Linked DNA regions of Homo sapiens: region 1 is linked to region 2. The links come from fine-mapping of genetic effects on gene expression. Tissue or cell type: thyroid. Region 2 holds a variant in brackets; the other region holds the start of a gene. All regions are shown on one strand. Distances are between the middles of the regions.

Region 1 (8,122 bases), 51 kb before region 2:
CAAAGATCACATGCTTCTGAGGGAATAGGACAAAGGGCAAAAGCAGAACCACTGACAAAGGTCCAACAAAGATCACAAGGCAAAGGGCAAAAGCAGAACCACTGATAAGGGTTGTGTTCAGCGGTGCATGTATTTTCTTGATAAACATCTTAAACAACAGAAAACGGGGTTGGAGAGCAGAGAACCAGTCTGACCACAAATTTACCAGGGTGGAGTTTTCCCAACCCTAGTAAGCCTGAGGGTTCTGCAGGAGACCAGGGCGTATCTCAGTCCTTATCTCAACGGCACAAGACAGACATTCCCAGAGCGGCCGTTTATAGACCTCCCGCCAGGAATGCATTCCTTTCCCAGGGTATTAATATTAATATTCCTTACTAGGAAAATAATTTAGTGATATCTCTCCTACTTGCACGTCCGTTTGTAGGCTCTCTGCAAGAAGAAAAATATGGCTCTTTTGGCCCGACTCCGCAGGCTGTCAGACCTTATGGTTGTCTTCCCTTGTTCCATAAAAATCGCTGTTATTCTGTTCTTTTTCAAGGTGCACTGATTTCGTATTGTTCAAACACATGTTTTACAATCAATTTGTACAGTTAACACAATTATCACAGTGGTCCTGAGGTTATGTACATCCTCAGCTTACGAACATAACAGGATTAAGATATTAAAGACAGGCATAAGAAATTATAAAAGTATTATTTGGGAACTGATAAATGTCCATATTAAGATGAAATCTTCACAATTTATGTTCCTCTGCCGCGGCTCCAGCCGGTCCCTCCATTCGGGGTCCTTGACTTCCCACAACATTAAACAATAACTCCTTATTCCCCACTGCCACCAGCCCCTGGCAACCACTATTCCACTTCCTGTCTCTGAATTTGACTACTTTAGGTACCTCATAAAGTGTAATTATACAGTATTTGGCCCTTCATCTCTGGCTTATTTTGCTTAGCATATTGTCTTCAAGGCTCATCCATATATTTACAGCATATCATAACTTCACTCTCCCCAGGAATTTTGCTCTGTCACCCAGGCTCTGGAGTGCAGTGGCAAGATCACAGTTCACTGCAGTCTCAACACCCAGGTGCAAGCAATCCTCCCATCTCAGTCTCCCCAGTAGCTGGGACGACAAGCACGTGCCACCTCACCTGGATACTTTTTAAGTTTTTTGTAGAGATGGGGGTCTCACTTTGTTGCCCAGTCTGGTCTTGAACTTCTACATTCAAGCAATCTTCCTACCTCGGCCTCCCAAAGTGCTGGGATCATAGGCATGAGCCACCTCACACAGCCATTTCATTCATTTTTTTTGAGACAGAGTTTCACTCTTGTTGCCCGGCTGGGGTGGAGTGGTGCAATCTTGCTTGGCTCACTGCAACCTCCTGGGTTCAAGTGATTTCCTGCCTCAGCCTCCCCAGTAGCTGGGACTACAGGTGTGTGCCACCATGCCCAGCTAATTTTTGTATTTTTAGTAGAGACGGGGTTTACTGTGTTGGCCAAGCTGGTCTCGAACTCCTGACCTTGAGTAATCTGTCCGCCTCAGGCTCCCAAAGTGCTGGGATTATAGGCGTGAGCCACTGCACCTGGCCCATTTCATTCCTTTTTCTTTTTTTTTCTTTCTTTTTTTTTGAGATAAACTCTCGCTCTGTCGCCCGGGCTGGACCACAATGGCGAGATCTTGGCTCACTGCAACCTCTGCCTCCTGGGTTCAAGAGATTCTCCTGCCTCGGTCTCCTGAGTAGCTGGGATTACAGGCGCCTGCCACTACGCCTGGCTAATTTTTGTATTTTTAGTAGAGATGGAGTTTCACCATGTTGACCAGGCTGGTCTTGAACTTTTGACCTCAGGTGATCCACCCTCCTCGGCCTCCCAAAGTGCTGGGATTACAGGCCTGAGCCACCACGCCCAGCCCATTTCATTCCTTTTTAAGGCTGAATAACATTCTGTTGTATGTATCTTCCACATTTTGTTTATCCATTCATTCACTGATGGACATTTGGGTTCTTTCCACCGTTTGGCTATTGTGAGTATGCTGCTATGAACATGGGTATACAAATATCTGTTAAAGTCCCTGCTTTCAATTCTTTTGGATATGTACCCAGAAGTAGAATTGCTGGATCACATAGTAATTCTATATTTAATTTTTTGAGGAACCTTCAACAGGGTTTTGATTTATTAGAAACAGGGTCTCCCTCTGTCACTGAGGCTGGGGTGCAGTAGTGCCATCATAGCTCACTGCAGCCTCAAACTCCTGGGCTCAAATGATCCTCCTGCCTTAGCAGGGTTATAATGTTTAATTTTTTTAGTATTTAATTTTCTTTTTTTTTTTTTTTGAGATGGAGTCTTGCTCTGTCGCCCAGGCTGGAGTGCAGTGGCCCAATCTCGGCTCACTGCAAGCTCCGCCTCCCGGGTTCATGCCATTCTCCTGCCTCAGCCTCCAAGTAGCTGGGACTACAGGCGCCTGCCACCACGCCTGGCTAATTTTTTTGTATTTTTAGTAGAGATGGGGTTTCACCGTGTTACCCAGGATGGTTTAAATCTCCTGACCTCGTGATCCGCCCAACTTGCCTCCCAAAGTGCTGGGATTATGGGCGTGAGCCACAGCGCCTGGCTCAGTCTTTACTTTTCATAACAGAAAACGTACCCTCTGCTTTTTATGGGGGTCTAACCATCTGAGTGCAGCTTGAGCTCAAGTGCTAAAGTCCATATTCAGGTTGGTCAGCAGCAGCAGTCTTGCTTGGAACCAAGAGATGGACCACCTGAATAGCATGACCTGGGTCAACGAGACAGAGCCTTAGGCCCAGAAATCTTTCCTGCTGTCAGGATAAATTAGTTTGTTTCACAAAGGGACTCTTGAAGATCAGAATTTCTGTATCTGTAAGACTTCTATGACTTAAAGAATTTCTGTACGTGTGAAATTATACTATTAGAAATACAAGATTGAAGAGTCTCCTTGTAAAAGCTAGTGTTAATGGCTAATAATCTAGCCAGGATTTAGAGATCAGGGAAAATGGGATTGAACTGTGTGGGCAAAGGAGATTAAGTAGCAGTGGAGGAGCTGAAAGGGGAATGGAAAAGTCGACGGACAGCTTCTACTTTACCATCTGTTTTATCAGCCTGGTAATCTGACGCCTGCCAGAACTATGTGGTCATGTGTTCCCTGCTTTGCCTCTTTCTCAGGATTTATAAACCCTTGTGGTGGGAGAATATGGAGCTGCATATATCTAGAGGGTTTTTTTATTTTTATCTTTTGAGACTGCACTTCACTCTTGCTGCCCAGGCTGGAGTGCAATGGCCTGATCTTGGCTCACTGCAACCTCTGCTTCCTGGGTCCAAGCGATTCTCCTGCCTCAGCCTCCCGAGTAGCTGGGATTACAGGCATGCGCCACCAGGCCCAGGTGATTTTCTTTTTAAATTTTCTATTTTTAGTAGAGATGGGGTTTCACCATGTTGGTCAGGCTGGTCTCTAACTCCTGACCTCAGGTGATCCGCCACCTCAGCCTCCCAAAGCGCTGAAATTGCAGGCGTGAGCCATCGCGCCTGGCTGAGGTTTATTTTTCAAAGAATGACCAAGAGGCTAGGTGTGGTGGCTCACAGTTGCAAATCCCAGCACTTTGGGAGGCCAAGGCGGACACATCACTTGAGGTCAGGAGTTTGAGAACAGCCTGTCCAACATGGTGAAACCCCATCTCTACTAAAAGTACAATTAGTGGGGCATGGTGGTGTGGCCTGTAATGGGAGGCTGAGACAGGAGAATTGCTTGAACCTGGGAGGCACAGGTTGCAGTGAGCCGAGATCGCACCACTGCACTCCAGCCTAGGCAACTGAGTGAGACTGTCTCAAAAAAGAAAAAAGACCAAAAACTCCATGAAACTACCATTCAATAAATAATCAATAAATAAGATGCAATTTCTCAAAGCTCAGTTTACAAAGAAGGAAATTTAATAAATGGTTGAAGATATACCCCCGACTGAACCCACAAGTTCTCTGAGTAGACTCATGGAATTCTAAAGAGTTGGTTGCTTGGAGACTGATAGAAACAGCTTTGGAACCTAAGAAACCAAGGAAGGCTTAAGATGCAGAACCTTGCTTCTCTCTGAGGACTGCCTTTTAGGAGGCCATTTGGAAAGTAATTTTGAAACACTGCTCCTTTGCCAGTATCTGAAAGGTGCTGGATGGTGTCAGCTGGAAGATGAGGGGCAACCTGAGGTAGCTGAAAAAACTTTGGATTAGGTGTCAAAAGGGTCAGTACTACTTTAGATACCAAGCAGTATGGTGATCTTAATGATTTCTCTTCTCTCTGGGCCCCAGTTTTGGGATTTATAAAATCAGGACATTAGGCCTGGTGCAGTGGCTCATGCCTGTATTCCCAGCATTTTGGGAGGCCAAGGTGGGAGGACTGTTTGAGTCCAGGAGTTCAAGACCAGCCTGAGCAACATAGTGAGACTCTATCTCTACAAAAAAAAAAAAAAAAAAAAAAATTTAACCGAGAGTGGTGTGCTATGTGCCTATGCTCCCAGCTATGTGGGAGGATTGCTTGAGCCCAGGAGGTCAAGGCTGCAGTGAGTCATGATCACGCCACTGTACTCCAGGAGAGTGAGACCCTGTCTCAAAAAAAAAAAAACAAATCAAGGCATTAGACCAGGTCATCTTTATAGCAGAGTTTCCAGAGTAATCTCTGGAGATAGCTGTATAGCTGTGTGAGTGCATGGTAAAAAATTAGAAAGTAGAGGGGAAAAAATGAGGGGAACTTTTTGAGGGCAAAAAGGGAGAAAGGGGGACTTGAAACAAGCCAGGTTAAGCAGCTGTTCCCTAATCCCACTCTCCCCACTAACCAGGCTTCCTTCATACACCCCACTGACACCCTTTGGGCTGTGCTTTCTTTAAATGTATTGTGTATTAAACCTGAGAGCTTGTGAAAATGCAGATTTCTAGGCCTCACTTGCAGGCTACTGAATCAGCATTCTGGGAGTAGGACACAAGAGTCTGATGTAAAAGGTTCTTTACCCATATCTATTCCAGGCATAGTCCCAGCATTTCTGGAGGCCAAGGCAGGAAGATCACTTGATTCCAGGAGTTTGAAACCAGCCTGGACAACATAGTAAGACCCTGTCTCTACAAAAAAAAGTTTTAAAACATTAGCCAGGCATGGTGGTGCACACCTGTGGTCCCAGCTACTGGGGACGCTGAGGCAGGAGGATTGCTTGAGCCTGGGAGGCAAGGCTGCAGTGAGCCATGACTGTGCCACCGCACTCCAGCTTGGGTGACAGAGTGAGGCCCTGTCTCAAACATAAATAAATAAACAAAAAACTGTATCTAACAAACACCACCCCAGAAGCTGACTGCACACTCTTGGACTCCACCTCAGAACTTCAGAATCCAAATCTGTTGGTAGAGATGAGAGTATTATTTTTTTAAAGCTTTCAGAAGATACTGATACTAAGGCTTATTGCTTTTTAGTCTTTTCTTTCAAGGCAGTTTCCTCTATTTTAATAACAAGGGAGAATGCAAGATATTACTCCTTTTAGCACATGTTACTCAACCTACTTTGACCACTTGTACAGGATAAAGGTATCAGACCAGAGGGTGAGGGTAAGCGACTGATAAGCAAACAGAAAAGTGGAACTAAATTTGGAATCTCTGAGATACTACCCAGTTTGAGTTGAGTTCTGTATTCATAAAATATTAGAGGCAGGAGAGGAATTTAGTCCAACTCCTACGTTTTCCAGCTGGGGATCTAGGAAGTTCATCAGGTTTTAACTAGAGGCATGTGGCCTAACCCTTCCAACCCCATTCCTCCCCTTCTAGCCCAAGTTCCTAGAAATGCAGATAATGCTGGTGGGTTGCTCATTCCAGGGCCTGGTCTGCAGTTATGCCAGGATTGACTTAGTCAATTTTTTATGCTGTCTATGTACAAAAGGACCCCGGACCTGCCACTCTGCTTTTGGTTCTAGAGGGCTATTTGTTGGGAGTGGGGTGCTGCCTCATAATGCTGGTCACGTAATGTGTAAGTTTCGATAATAAGGAGCCTCCAAACTCCATTAATAAGTCCTTTCTTTCTTCTCTAAGCACCCTCTCTTTTAATTGCTGAGTACCCCATAGCCCTAAATTCTTCCCGAAGCGCCCAGTGCATCTAACTGTAGGACCCAGAGACTTGCCTTCTAAGGACAACAGTCCATCCTCTAAACTAATAATAACAATTCCTCACACATATATTTTAGTTTGCAAAGAACTTTCATACGTTTCTAATTTTGAGGTTCATATCAATCAACACTAAATTAGAACAGGTATCAGACTCAATTTTCAGATTGGGAAACTACAGATTTCAAATTATTTGCCCAAGGTAACATGACTGGGAAGTGCACAATTTGGCCTTACACCTGTCCCGTGACTCCAAGACAGACAAAGACAAGCCAGAACAAGCCTCTTTTGATCAGACCTTGTGTAACATTTTGTTCTGTCCCCATTCCTTTTCAAAACAGACCTATCATGTGTTCCCTTCCTTCTTAATAAGCCATCATATCGGATGATAATAACTATTCCTTAAGTTTTTTTTGTTTTTTTTTTTTGAGAAGAAGTTTCACTCTTGTCACCCAGCCTGGAGTGCACTGGTGTGATCTTGGCTCACTGCAACCTCCGCCTCCTGGGTTCAAGCGATTCTCCTGCCTCAGCCTCCTGAGTAGCTGGGATTACGGGTGCCTGCCACCATGCCTGGCTAATTTTTTGTATTTTTAGTAGAGATGGGGTTTCGCCATGTTGGCCATGCTGCTCTTGAACTGCTGACCTCTGGTGATCTGCCTGCCTCAGCCTCCCAAAGTGTTGGGATTACAGGCGTGAGCCACCGCACCCAGCCTCCTTAAGAATTTCTAATAATTGATAATGGTAATATGGTATTCTTTCTGGGATGTTTGCATTGTAACTAAAGATTCTTTATGTCAAAGGCTAAAGGGCATTTATCTGCGGACACCCTAAATCACTCCTTTTTTTTTGAGATAGAGTTTTGCTCTTGTTATCCAGGCTGGAGTGCGGTGGCACGATCTCGGCTCGCTGCAACCTCTGCTTGTCAGGTTCAAGCAACTCTCCTGCCTCAGCCTCCCAAGTAGCTGGGATTACAGGTGTGTGCCACCATGCCTGGCTAATTTTGTATTTTTAGTAGAGATGGGGTTTCTCCATGTTGATCAGGCTGGCTGGTCTCGAACTCCTGACCTTGGGTGATCCACCCGCCTCAGCCTCCCAAAGTGCTGGGATTACAGGCGTGAGCCACCCACCTAGCCAATCACTCCTTATAGGTAGTCATCTGGGGATGAAATGAGTCCTCATCCCATTTTTCAACTGTTTAGGATCAAATTGCCCCCTGCCTTAGAAGCAAGATGTGGACACACTGATGTGTTAGGAATGTAAAATGTTTTAGAAGAATATGCAAGGCAGGAGAATATTAATGTTCTTTTCATTTGACCATTCATACTCAACCAGTGAGGAACTCCTCTTAACAAGAATCTTATAAGACAGGTCTGATGTCAAAATCTCTCACTTTTTTTTTTTTAACTAAGAATATCCTTATTTCTCTTTCATGTTTGAAGGCTGTTTTTGCTGAATATAATATTCTAGATTGGAAGTTTTTTTGCTTCAGCACTTTGTCACCCCACTCTCTGCTTGTAAAGTTTCTGCTGAGAAGTCTGCTACCAGCCATATTGGAGCTCCTTTATGATGTTATTAATATGTCCTTCTTTTCTCTTGCTGCTTTTAGGATCCTTTTTTAGCCTTGACCTTTGAGAGTTTGATTATTATATGCCTTGAGGTAGTCTTATTGAGGCTGAGTTGGCTTGGTGTTTTATGACCTTCTTATACCTGTATATTCATATCTTTCTCTAGTTTTAGAAAGTTCTCTGTTACTATTTCTTTAAATAAATTTTTACATTGATCTCTCCCTCTACATTCTTTTTTTTTAGTTTAATCATTTTTATTTCAAGTTTATTTAAAAAATCATAAATGGGGTTTCATAATCCAAAGTTGAAACATTTATTCTTCATAGCTTCAGAATTTGACAAGCAATTGTAGACCATGCTTTCCAAATCCAGTCTTCTTTGCTATTTTTCAAATTTCTGAGATCTAGTATTAAACTGCTCCA
Region 2 (8,104 bases):
ACTCCTGGCCTCAAGTAATCCTCCCACCTTAACCTCCCAAACTGCTGGGATTACAGGCGTGAGCCACTGTGCCCAGCCAAGAGCCCATTCTTTTTTATTTTATTTTATTTATTTATTTATTTATTTATTTATTTATTTATTTATTTATTTTTGAGACAGAGTCTTGCTCTGTCACCCAGGCTGGAGTGCAGTGGCGCGATCTCTGCTCACTGCAACCTCCACCTCCCAGGTTCAAGCAATTCTCCTGCCCTAGTCTCCCGAGTAGCTGGGACTACATACAGGCGTGTGCCACCATGCCCAGCTCATTTTTTTGTATTTTTAGTAGAGATGGGGTTTCACCATGTTGGCCAGGCTGGTCTTGAACTCCTGACCTCAAGTGATCCACCCACCTCAGCCTCCCAAAGTGCTGGGATTACAGGCATGAGCCACCGCACCTGACAAAATCTTAAAATATGATTCACGGGCTTAGCTGTGCCACTCCTTGGGCAGTCAGCTAACCTCTCTGAGCTTCAAATTACCTATCTATAAAATGAGACTAGTGGTAGACAAAGGGATAACAAACCTTTCCCCTTCCTACTTGAGAATTTGAACTTCAGTTAAATGCCCACCTGTTCCCCTAAACACCTGATAAGAACTATCTTTATAGGCAACATTGGTTATGATATAAATCCTGTTTGATAAATTACATTGGGACTGAGAAGAGCTATAAGTGAAATATAAATACTTGATAGGGACACCATAGTTTGGGCCTCCCTGGATACTGTAACTTATAACAGGCAGGCCCTTTGTGGACCCTAGAATTGTGTCTATGGAGTTTTTATAAGAGATATTAGTTCCTGTAAAGCATAAATTCACCCAGTGAATAAACAACATGCTCCTGTGCTGTCCCCAAGACTCTGTGGAATGCTCAAGACAGCCTCAAGAACTGCAGCCAAAGCCAGGTGTGGTGGCTCACACTTGTAATTCCAGCACTTTGGAAGGCCAAGGCAGGTGGATCACCTGAAGTCAAGGGTTCAAGACCAGCCTGGCCAACATGGTGAAACCTCATCTCTACCAAAAATACAAAAATTAGCCAGGCGTGGTGACAGGTGCCTGTAGTCCCAGATACTCGGAAGGCTGAGGCAGAAGAATCGCCTGAACCCAGGAAGCAGAAGTTGCAGTGAGCCAAGATTGTGCCATTGTACTCCAGCCTGGGCAACAGAGCAAAAACTCTATCTCAAAAAAAAAACAAAAACAAAAACAAAAAAACTCCAGCCAACAGGGATGCCTGATGCTGCTGCCCTGTTGACAAACTATGCTCCTGTCCCATATTCTTCTGGTGCCATGCATGGCCCATGACAGTCTTATGAACCTTACTGTTTAGTTGAACCAAAAAAGACTCCCTAGTGAGCTCTACAATGATACCTACCTTGCCTAATTCAACCAAGGTTGAAAGATAACAAGATAATGTAAAAACACTATATTATAAAGCACTACCTAAATATAATTGTTCTTACAAATATAAAGGCTCAGCTGGGGGCGGTGGCACACGTCTGTAATCCCAGCACTTTGGGAGGCTGAGGCAGGTGGATCACAAGGTCAGGAGATCGAGACCATCCTGGCTAACACGGTGAAATCCCATCTCTACTAAGAATACTAAAAATTAGCTGGGTGCCTGTAGTCCCAGCTACTCGGGAGGCTGAGGCAGGAGAATGGTGTGAACCCAGGAGGCGGAGCTTGCAGTGAGCTGAGATCACACCACTGCACTCCAGCCCAGGTGACAGAACAAGACTCCGTCTCAAAAAATATATAAAATAAATAAATATATATATATATATATATATATATATATATATATATATATATATATATATATATATGGGCTCATGGGGCAAATTGGTTGCTTTTAATCACTAAAACTAATGGTGTAGTTCACTGTAGCCTAGCTGGAAACATTCTTCTTCGGCTTAAATATAGCTGTTTAGAGGCCAGATGATAAAGGATTGGGAATTGGCATACCAGCACACAGGTGAGCTTTAACACCTTGAGCAGAAAATCCTGCCCATCTGAAGGGCTCAGCTAAACTGTAATTATATTACATAGCACTAAGCAACTGCAGCTGGGACTGAGGTTGGCCACCACATGGCTGTAGGAAGGAAGCTGTGTGTGAGAAAAGCAAAGGGGCTAGTACTCTCTTACCTGGCTCTTTTGATCACAGACAAGACCATCCAGGACTTGCCGGAGGTTCTACTGCCTGCCCTAGAGGCTGCTCTTTGTGACAAGAATGCCCATGTGCGGATGGCAGCAGCAATATGCCAATATGCCATACAGTCACATAATCCCCTTGCCCGGAACATCATGCAGACTGCCCTTCTGAAGGGTGAGTAACTCCCTGTTACTTCTGACCTGGAAATATGGGATAGACATCTCACTATCAGCTTTCCCAGTCCTTTCCTCTCCACTGTGATGCTCTGCAATGTCTGCTGTATTGGGTTTAGATTTATGTTAGACCATTTGAAAATTAGGACCAGACACTGTCGCTCACACCTGTAATCCCAGCACTTTGGGAGGCCAAGGCGACAGGATCACCTGAGCATAGGAGTTCTAAACCAGCCTGGGCAACATAACAAGACCCCATCTCTATAAAAAATTTTAAAATTAGCCAGGTGCGGTGGTGTGCTCCTGTAGACCCAGCTACCTAGGAGGCTGAGGCAGACCTATATATACATGCTTATCAGAGTCAGCTTGAGCCCAGGGGGTTGAAGCTGCAATAAGCCACAATGGTGCCACTGTACTCCAACCTGGGTGACAGAGCAAGACCCTGTCTCTAAAAAAAAGGAAAAAAAGAAAATTTGCTCTTTCTAGGTACTTTAACAAAACAGGTACACTGCCACCAAGTGGTAGCTGGACTAAATTTTTTTTTTTTTTTTTTTTTTTTTTGAGACAGAGTTTCACTCTCGTTGCCCAGGCTGGAGTGCAATGGTGGGATCTCAGCTCACACTGCAACCTCCGCCTCCTGGGTTCAAGCAATTCTCCTGCCTCGGCTTCCCAAGTAGCTGGGATTACAGGCGCATGCCACCACGCCTGGCTGATTTTTGTATTTTTAGTAGAGATGGGGTTTTACCATGTTGGCCAGGCTGGTCTTGAACTCCTGACCTTAGGTGATCCGCCCACCTTGGCCTCCCAAAATGTGAGGACTACAGGTGTTAGCCACCGTGCCCAGCCAATATGATTCTTCTCAATATGGTTTAAATAAGAAATTGTATTTCTAGACTGAGTGGGGCACAAGGAAGTGAGATATCAGGTGGGGTAGCAGCCTTGGGTATCAATCCAAAGGCTGTTCTCTAGGGGGAAAACACATCACCATTCTGAACTCTTTTTCACCCAACTGTGGCAGGTAACAGTGTGGATAGCTGGGCTGCAGCTCAGTGCTTGGCTCTGGAAGGTACTGCTACTTACCCTGTGATTAAGAGGATCCTCCACCAGCTGTTTACAAAGAAGAATGAGGACACTGAGGAACAGTCTTATATCCTCCTGAGCTATCTGAGTGAGAAGACAGTATGTGTCCATTACCGGGTCAGACACAGTTTTGGGGAGCAATTAGGTCTTTGAGGTCAGTGAATGTAAGCAATCTGAAATGCAGCTGGGGCCGGGGCAGTGGCTTATGCCTGTAATCCCAACACTTCGGGAGGCCGAGGCAGGTGGATCACTTGAGGTCAGGAGTTCGAGACCAGACTGGCCAACATGGGTGAAACCTCATCTCTACTAAAAATAAAAAAATTAGACAGGTGCAGTGGTACCACACTGAGTAGTCCCAGCTACTCGGGAGGCTGAGGCATGAAAATCACTTCAGCCTGGGAGGTG[A/G]AGGTTGCAGTGAGCTGAGATCACGCCACTACACTCCAGCCTAGGTGACAGAGCAAGACTCTGTCTCAAACAAATAAAATAAAATGCAGCTGGGCTGGGCATGGTCGCTCACGCCTGTAATCCCAGCACTTTGGGAGGCTGAGGTGGGAGTATCCCTTGAGTCCAGGATTTCAAGACCAGCCTGGGCAATATAGTGAGACCCTGTCTCTACAAAAAAAGAAATAAAATTAGTCAGGCATGGTGGTATGTGCCTGTAATCCTAGCTACTCAAGAGGCTGAGGTGGGAGGATCACTTGAGCCTGGCAGGTTGGGGCTGCAGCGAGCTGAGATCACACCACTGTACTCCAGCCTGAGCGACAGAGCAAGACCCTGCCTCAAAAAATTAATTACACAATTAATTAATTAGATAAAATGCAGCCGGTTGGGTTGACAATCTCAAGCATAAGTAAACGTAGAATAAGCATGAGTAAACCTGGGTGTAGAGGTGTATACAAAGGGAAGTCACAATAGTTAGCTGAGAGAAAAGTGAGAATTAGGTTGCAAATGGTCTCTATTTGCATATGCAAGAAGAGTTCTGACATGTAGAATTTGCTTCTGCTAGAAGTTTACCATTGAAAACTGCAGAGGCCTATATTTGTGTTTAGTTACTTTCAATAGAAATGTGAAAGTCATAAGCTTGAGGCATATAAAAATCATTTTAGGGGTAAAAACAGTTAAAGACAGAAGGCCGGGCACGGTGGCTCACGCCTGTAATCCCAGCACTTTGGGAGGCCGAGGCAGGCAGATCACCTGAGGTCAGGAATTCAAGACCAGCCTGGCACCAACATGGTAAAACCCCGCCTCTACTAAAAATACAAAAATTAACCGGGCGTGGTGGCAGGCGCCTGTAATCCCAGCTACTTGGGAGGCTGAGGCAACAGAATCACTTGAACCCGAGAGGCGGAGGTTGCAGTGAGCCGAGATTGTGCCACTGCACTCCAGCCTGGGGGACAACCTTCTCAGAAAAAAAAAAAAAAAAAAAAACAGTTAAAGTCAGGAAAGGAAGGTCCCAGTTTTCTGTTTAAGTTATTAAATTTGTATTTTGTTCCCCAATTTATGATCCCAGAGTCAGTTGGCTGTGATGGAAACATGCCCCATCTCTTGTAAGCCCACTGGTGACATTAATTATGCAGGATGCCATTTCAGAATGTAACTTCAAGGTTCTAGTATCTCTAAAAGTGATTGTGAATATCCATACAAGTCTTCCATTTCCTCAGACCCTGATACACACCATGCTTGCTGTGGAGCTGAACAGCTGTCAATGGAAGAACCGGATTGTGGCCTGCCAGGCTTTCTCCCGGATCAGTGGAAATGTCTGCTTGGTAAACCTCTTTCTTTGCCTCCAGGACAGAAAGCCTAAGAGAGGCTGAGCTACAGAGGCCTTCTACTTTTTGCTGCTATGTATTATTCCATTCTTACCAAACAGATCTCTGTTCCCACATCACTACTTCTTACTTCTAGCCCAGAATTATCTTCAAATGCTAATATGTCTGTCTGGAAGCCAATGCTTCTCAGTGCACTGGTGGTCCATAAACTGTTGGTAACTGATCCACAATGAAATAGCACAAAAACTGACAGGAGTTTAGAAACGTTTATAGTAGGCCGGGTGCGGTGGCTCACATCTGTAATCCCAGCACTTGGGGAGGCCAAGGCAGGCGGATCACGAGGTCAGGAGTTGGAGACCAGCCTGACCAACATGGTGAAACTCCATCTCTACTAAAAATACAAAAATTAGCAGAGTGTGGTGGCACGCGCCTATAATCCCTGCTACTTGGGAGGCTGAGGCAGGAGAATCGCTTGAACCCAGGAGGCAGAGGTTGCAGTGAACCAAGATCTCACCACTGCTCTCTAGCCTGGGTGACAGAGGGAGACTCCATCTCAAAAAAAAAAAAAAAAAAGAAACGTTTATAGTAATTTGATATTGCCTCAATATCAACAGACTTTATCAGTCAATGACATATTTCCCCCCCGCCAAAATTGGTTCTTCATCAAAGATCATTCGAGAAGCACTGACTTAGACTACCCAAAAACCCATCTAAATGAGTGTCTGTGCTGCTTCTCAGAGTGTTCGGCACACACATATAAAACATAGTCCCGGCCGGGCACGGTGGCTCACACCTGTAATGCCAGCACTTTGGGAGGCCAAGGCAGGTGGATCAGAGCTCAGGAGTTTCAGACCAGCCTGGCCAACATAGTGAAATCCTATCTGTACTAAAATACAAAAATTAGCCAGGTGTGGTGGCTGGCACCTGTAATCCTAGCTACTTGGAAGGCTGAGGCACAAGAATTGCTTGAACCTGGGAGGGAGAGGTTGCAGTGAGCCGAGATCGCACCACTGCACTCCAGCCTGGGCGACAGTGCGAGACTCTGTCTCAAAAAACAAAACAAAAAAAAACAAAACAAAAAAACCATTGTCCCAACTTTCACAAAATTAACACTATGGTAGGAACAATAAGACTAATATACACAAATGATTCAAGAACAAGCAATAAATATAAGGTACCCTTTTAAAACTTTTCAGAGAGAGAGAGATTAGTGTGGGTTAAATTTATTGGTTAAAGTTCTGTGAAGGGGTCCGGTACGGTGGCTCATGCCTGTAAGCCCAGCACCTTGGGAGGCTGAGGCGGGTGGATCACTTGAGACCAGGAGGTTGAAACCAGCCTGGTCATCATGGCAAAACCCCATCTCTAATTAGCTGGGCATGGTGGCACACACCTGTCATCCCAGCTACTTGGAGGCTGAGGCAGGAGAATCGCTTAAACCTGGGAGGCGGCGGTTTCAGTGAGCCAAGATCGTGCCACTGCACTCCAGCCTGGGCGACAGAGCGAGACTCCATCTAAAAAAAAAAACAAACCAACTGTCGGTGAAGATGGTGGGGCTCAGCTAGAACTAAAGAGGGAATTCCAGGCAACACTTCGTTTTTGCCATTATTTCCCAATCATCTTCAGCTGTCCAAATGGGAGCTTTCCCTTCTTCCTATGTGCTACTTCATCTTTTCCTTATAACTTTGGATATCTCCAGAATAGCCCAGAACATTGCCATTCCCATGATAAGTGAACAACCTCCACTCTGTAACCCTGACATTTTGATATGGGAAGCACAAAATCTGGCCACTCAGTACAGTAATCACCTGAAAAGGTTTTGGACTTGGGTTAGTTCTGTCTCAAGTGCTATAGCACCCTGCTGCTAAAGTCCTGGACCAGCAGCACAGGCGTCACCTAGGAGCATTATTAGAAATGCAAAAATCGGCCGGGCACAGTGGCTCGCACCTGTAATCCCAGCACTTTGGGAGGCCAAGGAGGGCGGATCACGAGGTCAGGAGATCGAGACCATCCTGGCTAACACGGTGAAACCCTGTCTCTACTAAAAATAAAAAAAATTAGGCGGGTGTGGTGGCAGGCACCTGTAGTCCCAGCTCCTCGGGAGGCTGAGGCAGGAGAATGGCGTGATCCCAGGAGGTGGAGGTTGCAGTGAGTTGAGATCGCACCACTGCGCCCCAGCCTGGGCAACAGAGCGAGGCTCCGTCTCAAAAAAAAAAAAAAAATTAGCCAGGCTTGGTGGCACATGCCCATAATCCCAGCTACTCAGGAGGCTCAGGCAGGAGAGTCACTTGAACCCAGGAGGCGGAGGTTGCAGTGAGCCGAGATCGTGCCATTGCACTCCAGCCTGGGCAACAAGAGTGAAACTCCGTCTCAAAAAAAAAAAAAAAAAAGAAATGCAAAAATCTCATCTTAAGCCAGCTCAATCAGAATCTGCATCTTAACAATATCATTTTAACAACTTCCAATTCATTTGTACCTTCACCTCCTTGGCACTTGTCACTTAGAATTGACAACTGAAAGTAAAAAGACATGCAGAGCTAGCAGGGGTTGAGGTAAAGATGATGAGGACTTCATGGCAGATTGCTGGAGCTAAGAAAGGCAGTATGTCTATGAGTCTTTTCACTCATTCAGTAAGCATGCAGTTTCTGACCACATCCGACGCACTAGGCACTATGCTACCCCTGGGGGTGCAGGGATAAGTCTTCCGTTAGTAAATGTTACAAATAGCTAGAACAGAAGCAGCTATAAGGTGTTGTGGGGATTTCCTGTGCTTACAAGGGGCAAAGAAGACTTCACTAAGGAGATGTTTTTATTTTATTTTTTAAAATTTTTAATAAAAGAGATAGGAAGGAGATGCTTTTGAGGTAAATCCTAAAGGAAGACTACAAAGACATCAAGTA

What was found. PIP is the estimated chance that this variant, and not a neighbour inherited with it, causes the effect.
Region 1: HEATR4 starts here. The variant in region 2 is fine-mapped to the expression of HEATR4 in thyroid (GTEx, PIP 0.91).

Annotation. Positions count from the first base shown.
Region 1 is chr14:73,554,867-73,562,988 of GRCh38, reverse strand. HEATR4 (HEAT repeat containing 4) reads left to right here and starts at 4,042. Exons shown (of 18, transcript NM_001220484.1): 1 at 4,042-4,238. RefSeq lists an enhancer at 3,041-3,210.
Region 2 is chr14:73,503,567-73,511,670 of GRCh38, reverse strand. HEATR4 (HEAT repeat containing 4) reads left to right here. Exons shown (of 18, transcript NM_001220484.1): 8 at 2,198-2,359; 9 at 3,377-3,537; 10 at 5,100-5,204. It also overlaps a transcript of ACOT1 not described here. Among named protein-coding and RNA genes, the nearest start is that of RIOX1, 17 kb to the right of the region's middle. The variant A/G (reference allele first, on the strand shown) is at 3,844.